2 linked regions of the Homo sapiens genome follow. The protein of the gene in region 1 purifies or fractionates together with the protein of each later gene. This does not show direct contact. Each region holds a gene or a part of one and is shown on either strand. Other genes may lie near its edges.

Region 1 (4,252 bases):
AAAAAAAAAAGAAAAAGAAAAAGAAAAAAGAAAGAGGGAGGGTGGTGGTAGCCCAGTCACCAACATGTTTCACTATAAGAACTCGAGAAGGGCAGGGCAAGATAGTGGCTTCATAGCCAGGTCAGCTGCTTACCAAGAAGAAGGAAGGAAGGGGCAGGACAAATTTCTTGGGACCAGGTGGGATGACCAGGGTGCAGCTGCCCCTTCGAAGGGGTGGGTGTGTGGAGGATCAAGACCTCTATTTCCCAAATACTCTCGTCCCTCTATCCCACAGTGACCTATGGTGCTGGCATATAACCAGCTGTCAGGTCTTTGCCCACTCTGTTCGCCCCTGCTTCCTGGCGCAGGGAGTCCATGTCCTCTCTGGTTCCCCAGGTTTGCGAGAGTGGAGGGGGACCACGAGCTCCCGATGCCTCTCCTGCTCTGCAGGGGAACTTGCAGATGGCCCATGGCGCAGGGTCGAGACTCAAGCCCACTCCCAACCCCGCGCCCGAACTGCCCGGACTGGCGGGGTGACGCTGCACTCTGCGCCCCTAAAACGAACAGATTAACCCCTCTCTTGGGAACTGAACATGCTGACCTGGCCTCTCCCGGTTCCCCCCGCATCTGTAACCCCGGGGCAGAGTTACAGGGGCTGACTGGCCGCACCCAGGTGCCCTCGGGGCAGGGTGTGCTAAGAATTGGTGTGGGGGCTGCACAAAGGTCCTGGTCAGCTCCTGGTCACCTGAGGCCCAAGAACTGTCCGGGACTCACTTCCTCTCTTCTTGCTTTAACCGGGGTCGCTCAGCAGCGGCCAGCGCTGCACCCCTTATCCTCTCCCGGTCTTGTCCGTTCCAGATCCTCCAGGTCAGGGGGTCGCCAAGTGAGAGCTGCGCAGCGTGGATTTCGGGTACCCAGGGCTGGGCGGGGTACAGCAGCGGCGAGCTGGGTTCCCGGGTGGGCGACTGACAGCCCGGAGCCAGGCGATACCTCGATCCATCGATGCGCTCGGCGCTCAGCGTGGTCCAGGAAGCAGGGGGTTGGGCAAGGGCGGGGCGGCGACCTCCGACTGGGAGGGGCGTATATGGCGGCGAGTCCCTATTGGCCAGCCATTTGCGGGAGGCGGGCCCTGATTGGCCGGGGGGATGCGGGGGATGCGGGCGGCGGGGTTAAGCGCGTCGCCACCGCCCCCGCCTAGGCGAGAGCCCAGAGAGCTGAACCTGCATCCCGGACCTGCGGCGACCGTCGTACACCATGGGCCTCCACCTCCGCCCCTACCGTGTGGGGCTGCTCCCGGATGGCCTCCTGTTCCTCTTGCTGCTGCTAATGCTGCTCGCGGACCCAGCGCTCCCGGCCGGACGTCACCCCCCAGTGGTGCTGGGTGAGGCACGGGTCTCGTGGTGGATCTGTCGGTCGGGCGGGACGGGCCGCGGGCGGGGCTGCCTTCCCGGTCTGCTTCTGTTCCAGTCACGAAATGGGGGAGCGTATTGGTATCTGTCTTGTCACTTAGGTGATCTAGATCTGCCGGCTCACCTCCCGCCATGCTGGGCGCGGGTGTGGTCAGCTCCCCACCTCCTGTCCTGGTAGAAAATGGGGGTGAGTGGGAGAGTTACCATCTGGTTATTCATAGTTCCACCTGTCCGCATCATTCCCAAGCCTTGCCTCCCCTTATCCCATTTTTAAGCTGGAAAGACAGGTGCTTCAGCCCCACTCCTGAGGGATGGTGGGGGTGTGTAGAGTGGCTCCTGAGTTGACTTCTGCATCGACCTGGGCCTGGTTAGGAGGCTGTCACCCTCGACCCCTCCAATGCCACATATGCCAGAAGGCATTGCTGAAAGGAACCTCCTTAGGGAAAGGATTGCTGTCCTAGCTGGCCACCAACTCCCACAACTTATCAGATGTGTGGCATTGCCTGAGGGAAAAGGCCTAAGGGAAACTGAAGACAACTGAAGTCAGGGGAAAGGGTTGGGACAATGGCCATGAACCTGTGTCAGGCAACATGCTTGTACTCTTACCCTGCCACACATGCTTGGACTAGACTATGTGGAGGCTCGGTGACCTCCCCTGCTCACCCCGCTCCTTGATCACAACCCTGGCAACTCTACAACGGCCACTGTATTTCCTTGCAGGGATGGGCAGGGATGAGACCTCTGTCTGGGGGGCCTTGGGTGCCTCATTGAGGCCGTCACTCCCATCCAGAGCTGGTGTGTCCGTGGCCAGCCAGGATTCCTGAAAGCAGAGGCATCTGAGGCATGAATTACACGTGGAGTCTAGTGCAGCATGATCTCCATGCTCTTTCTGCTGAGAGTACTTTAAATGGGGACGATGCAAATCACAGAAGGGTAGAGTTGGCAGGTAGGGTGGTGCCAGGCAGGCCCCACCAGGAGTTCCCAGCCAGGAAAAGCTCCAGGGGGATACTAGGCCCAGGTTCACCATGGGATTTGGGCAGACTTGGCCCTGCCTCCCCAAAGCTTGCAGGATAGGAATAACAGTGATCCCCAGAGAGGAAGTCTGTGTGGGGCAAGCACAGAGAATCCACCAACCCAGCCTGGATGGGTGGGTGTCAAGTAAGGCTTCCTGGAGTATATAGCTGGAGCTAAGGCCAGGAGAGAGTAATGGGTCGGGGAGAGACGTGAGCATCTCAGGCTGCCTGGGATCGAGTCACAGGAGGAGTGGACTGCACAGGACTTGTGACTGGTTGGGTCATCTGAACTTTATCTTGAGGGCCTCAGGGAGTCCTGGGTTGGCCTGCAGAGTTCTAAGTCTGAGGGGCGTGGCATTAGGAAGCATGTGGTCTGTGGCACACAAAATGGCACATAGCCATTTTGCCTGGATTGATGCTAACCGCACTCATCAATTCAGTCAGTCTGTTTATCCTTGGTCACAGCAGAAGAGCCTCAGACCCCACCCAGAATCACAGAGCAGCAGGAGTCCTAACATGCCCAGCTTCTCAGGGAGTGAGGCTGCTGGCCTTAGCCCTGGGAGACCTCACGGTGGGCAGTTGGATAAGCAGCTCCTGGGCACAGAGCAGGGATCTGACCTTGACTGTCAGAAGATCAGAATCCTCTAGGGGTGGATCCTGAAATGGTGGTGGAGGAAAGAGAGACCAGCGATGTGATACAGAAGACCCTGGGCAAGGGGAAGGGACCATAGGCAAGGCCATTTCCACCTCTTGCAGCCTCAGTCTCCCCATCTGTTAAGTGGAAATAGTAAGGCTGTCCCCTCCCAGTGTTACTTGAGGTGAAAGGCATGTGGATGGCTCTTTTCCTAGTTCCAGGCGCAGATGGGCTCAGGAAGTGGCCACTGCTATTTTTAGGGGCCACACAGCCTGACCAGGGTAAGGAGCATCTGAGCAAAGCAGATCTGGTGACTTCCTCTTTTACCATTTCCCCTTTGGTAGAGACAGTGACCAGGGTCTCTGCCCTGCCCTGCCCAGTCCACAGGCATGTCATCCAGAGGCTGTCATGACAGGGACTCCCTCCCTCTGCACCCATACCATGAAGGGAGGTGAAGGCATGTGCCGCCCCTGCCTCTCATGGCACCCTGAAGACACTGGGATGGTGCCCAGGGAGGGCACGCCCTGTTCAGGGTGGATTTACGGTCAGTTCCCAGTGAATGTCCAGGAGAGCCAAGTGCTGGTTTTTCACTCAATGATCATGGACCCTAAACGGGGATGTGTTTGGGAAGTGGCGAGAGCATGGCATGTGGGGGCAGGTGAGGCCCGAAAGGTCAATGGGAGTAACGAGACTGTGAAGGGCTTTGACGCAGTGGGGAGGGATTTGGGTGTCACCAGGGCCCCAGAGTTCTGAGTACACTGAATAGGATGGCTGGGATGGAGAGAAGTCACCCTAGGGCCTGGACTGTGGTGATAATGGTGCTGGTTCAGGGTGGCTGTTTCCAATACGGGCTCCCAGCCATGCTAGGGCCCTCCAGATGATCTGCTCTCTGGCACCTTACTGGACTCTGGCCTTTAGTAAGGCCTGGGCCCTTGGTAGGCTGGCGGGTGCCAATGTAAGCTTCTCTCAGCTGTGTTTCTGTTCATTTCCCTCCCACCAGCCTGTCCTGCATACTTTGTCTGGTTGAATTTTAGCTGAGTGGCCCAGGGCTCTGTTCTGTTTCCTTCTTCCTCTCTCAGGGCGAACAGGACCCTGTCTTCTATGTAGCCTGGGATAGCTATGGGTGGAAGACTTTTGGGTTCAAGCCTCCAGGGTATATATCTTTTTTTTTTTTTGAGACCGGGTCTTGCTCTGTCACCCAGGCTGGAGGGCAATGG
Region 2 (3,815 bases), on another chromosome or scaffold:
GCTGAGATCCCACCACTGCACTCCAGCCTGGGCGAGAGGGCAAGACTCCGTCTCAAAAACAAACAAACAATAAAAATTGTTTTTCTTTCCTCGACTTCTCTTACCTACATCACAGATATGTACAGGATAAAATAGAGTAAAATAGTTTGAGAGTACTTCATCATCTGAAATTGAAGTTGGGTAGTTACCACTATTTTCAAGTCTTTAAAAGTAGAATTTTCATGAAAAGGAGTCTCTTCAAATATCTGCAGTGAAATATTAAAATATAGTTTATTATTTAGGTAACATTATTTTGAAGTAATCATCATAATCTCATCAGTTTGTGTTTATAAAATCAGAGATGATAAGCACTCTAGAAAATAAGAGAGGTAGAATTGTTTCTGATATTTTTATTTTACAGTCATCTGGCAGTGATGTCCATGTAATTCTCTACAATTTTTAAATGTATGTTTCTTTTTTTGGAGGCAGCATTGAATGAGGGTTCTGAAATAGGATTTGAGTTTAATAAAATTCGATGGAATGGTATGGAATAATGTAGCCATAGGATGAAATACTATCAGCCATTAAAACTGACTTTATGTAGAAAATGTCACAATTAAGTAAGTGAAAATTTGTAGAATATTAGGTAAGTAACTGATTTTTTTAAGTAGGTAAGTCTGGAAAGTTATAGATACTTAAATGTTAACAGGCATGCTTATTCTTAGGCAGTTGATTAACAGCAGGGTTTTCTTTTTTTGTAGTTCTATGGATTTAACAGTGAGCATATATTATTTCTGTAATGGGAGAAAAAGAAAACTGGGAGGGTATACCTGTATGGCAGTAGCATCTTTTAGTTGCAGCACCCTGGTTGATATTTCTTCATTTCTATTTTTTATTTTTCAAATGTTCTGTGTTGAGAATATATGTTACTTTTAATTATTAAAAACCTAACAAGCTTTGCTAAAAATTAAGTGGTTGGAATATGACTACATTTTTTTTTTTTTAAAGACAAGGTTTTGCTCTATTGTCCAGGCTGGAGTGCAGTGGTGAGATCATAGCTCAGTGTAGCCTCTAACTCCTGGGCTTAAGGGATCCTCCCACCTCAGCCTCCTGAGTAGCTAGGACTACAGGCACACACCACCACACCTGGCTAATTTTAAATTTTTTTTTATAAAGATGGGGTCTTGCTGTGTTGCCCAGGCTGGTCTCAAACTCCTGGTCTCAAGCAGTCCTCCCACCTTGGCCTCTCAGAGTGCTTGGGATGCATGTGTGAGCCATGATGCTGGGCTGACTGCATTTTTAAAAACTACTTTCATAATTACTTTAAAAATTAATATGCCCTCATTGTGGAGAATTATAGAAATAAGAAAGAGTAAAATAAGTTTAAAATCAATACATAATTGTACCATACCTTGAATAATCTTTTTAGGAATCATTTTTAAATTTATTTAGTCTGTAATTAGATTAACTAGGTTTGAATCACAGCTCTGTCACTTAATTGTTGAATGTCCTTGGGCAAGTTCCTTAATCACTGTGCGCCTTAGTTTTCATATCTGTACAATGAGGGTAATGATACCTACTTCGTGAGAGGGTTAAATATATATATGTAAAGTACATAAAACTGCCTGCCACATGGTAAGTGCTCCATAAGTGTGATCTACCATTATTGTGCTATACTATATAAATTTGTATCATGCCTTTTAAAATTAACATTATTGGCCAGGTACAGTGGCTCATGCTTATAATTCCAGCATCTTGGGTGGCTGAGGCAGGAGGATGGCTTGAGCCCAGGAGTTCAAGATCAGCCTGGCAACATGGCAAGAACCTGTTTCTACAAAAAAAATTTTAAAAATTAGCCAGGCATGGTGGCACGAGCTTGTAGTCCCAGCTAGCTGCCTGGGAGGCTGAGGTGGGAGAATCGTTTGAACCCAGGCGTTTGAGGCTGCAGTGAGCTATGATTGCACCACTACATTCCAGCCAGGGCAACAGAGTGACACCCTATCTCAAAAAAAAAAAAAAAGAAAGAAAAATAAACAAATAAAAGTAAAATTAACATTATTACATAAGCTTTTCCTCATTTTATTATAACATCTTTGTTGTATTTAATGAACTGTGATAAATGTAATGAACTGTGGCATTTCATCATGTGACTGTACCATAATTTACTTAACCATTCTCTTCTTATTGGACATTTGCAGTATCACCAAACTAAAACTTCCATCTGGTTGTAGAAAAATTTTAATCATGTTTTAAACTTGAGAGATAATTCACATTTATTTGACCCTTAACCTTAACTGCAGTACTAAACCAGAACCACCCATCTGTAAGAAAGAATCTCATATAGTGAGAACTTATTATAGCAAACACCCTGAATTAGACTTATAATTAAAACAAAAATCAGTGTGCTGTTGTTGCATTTTATACAGAGAAATACTAGAATAGGAAATCATTGTTTTAGTCTCAGAAGTTCATTTTAAAATCTCAATGAAATTTTATTTTCACAGATGGTTGGTAAAGGCTTTTTCCTAGTTCAGACAAAGGAAGTGTCCATGAAAGCTGAGGATGCTCAAAGGGTTTTTCGGGAAAAAGCACCTGACTTCCTTCCTCTTCTGAACAAAGGTACCTTCTGGATGATTGGTATACTTTTGTGGATATTTTCTTTACATGCTGATTTGATTTACTTTTGCCTTTAACATTTGTTTTACATTGCCTTCTCTTTCTCATTTGTTCTTTGTTTTTTTTCTATTATTGTTCTGAAATGTCAAAATTTCACATCACTCAAGGAGCCCTAGACAACTAACTAGAAATTAGGCATTCTTTTTTTTTCCCTATCCTCTGTTCTTAGTACTGAAAGTCACATTTTATTATGTATCTTATTATCATTTTAATTGTTGTATTATTGTTGTACCTTTATAGTGTAGTGATAAATATTTCATGCTCCCTGCTCAGAGTTGCAAAGCACTTGATGAAGATTCTTTCTACCTTCAGTGTGCTTTAATCATACTGGAAAAGAAATAAGAAATATAAAGTGGTATACTATTTTATGTATTTAATATGATTGATTAACTTCCATGTATAATTAGAATTGTTTTCCCTAGTGGGTAAATGCCACCAATAAATTTCAGATACTGGATATAGGTCTTCAAAGAGAGGAACTTGAGTATGTGTGCCCACTTGAAGGGTTACTGTCTGCCTACCTGTATTTGAAGGTGTATTGATTCTAGAGGACAGAGTACTCTTTATCTGTTCAGAGTGGGGCCATTGTTTGCTCAAGGCTCATCAGGCTTTCCTTGACTGGCCTGAGCAAATATGTATAGTAATACGCAGTGTTGATTGGGTATTCCCTAGAGAGAGGGCACATCTGCATTTTATGTGCTCTTTATGTATAAAAATATTATAATAAACTGCAAAAATCTGTATGCAAATGTTAGAGGAATGTTAGGATAATAAGTAATGCTGGGTGTAACTCAGCTGGTAAGTATTAATGCAGTATTTGATAATACTTCTGTGGTTACTGTAGTGGTAGCAAGGACTTGCTGTGACCCACTGCATGAATCTACCCCAGAATATATGTAGGAAATTCTGACCTGGCCCCTTTGATGCAACCATTTTGACATGGGAACATTTGGAAGCTTGAAAATGAATGTTTAACTTCTTAGCAGCTTTTGGAAATTGAATCAGGTAATAAGTGTATTGGACATCCTAAAGTGTGAGAGTTAGGAATAAAGTGAGCATATCGGTAGAGCTAAATTAATGATTTATGTACCTGTGTGATGTTAGTGAAGTCGTATTGTAGAATTGCTCCAACCCAAATATAATATCTGCATTTAAGTAAC

Evidence for each region.
Region 2: the proteins of PLA2G15 (region 1) and RP2 fractionate together in Homo sapiens (co-fractionation; one large-scale study listed by BioGRID). This does not show direct contact.

What each region holds. Positions count from the first base shown.
Region 1 is NC_000016.10:68,244,194-68,248,445, forward strand, and holds the start of PLA2G15 (lysosomal phospholipase A and acyltransferase isoform 1 precursor), read left to right. Parts: upstream 1-1,179; 5' UTR 1,180-1,233; coding exon 1,234-1,360; intron 1,361-4,252. UniProt on the Homo sapiens protein: Has dual calcium-independent phospholipase and O-acyltransferase activities with a potential role in glycerophospholipid homeostasis and remodeling of acyl groups of lipophilic alcohols present in acidic cellular compartments.
Region 2 is NC_000023.11:46,857,505-46,861,319, forward strand, and holds part of RP2 (protein XRP2), read left to right. Parts: intron 1-2,483; coding exon 2,484-2,598; intron 2,599-3,815. UniProt on the Homo sapiens protein: Acts as a GTPase-activating protein (GAP) involved in trafficking between the Golgi and the ciliary membrane.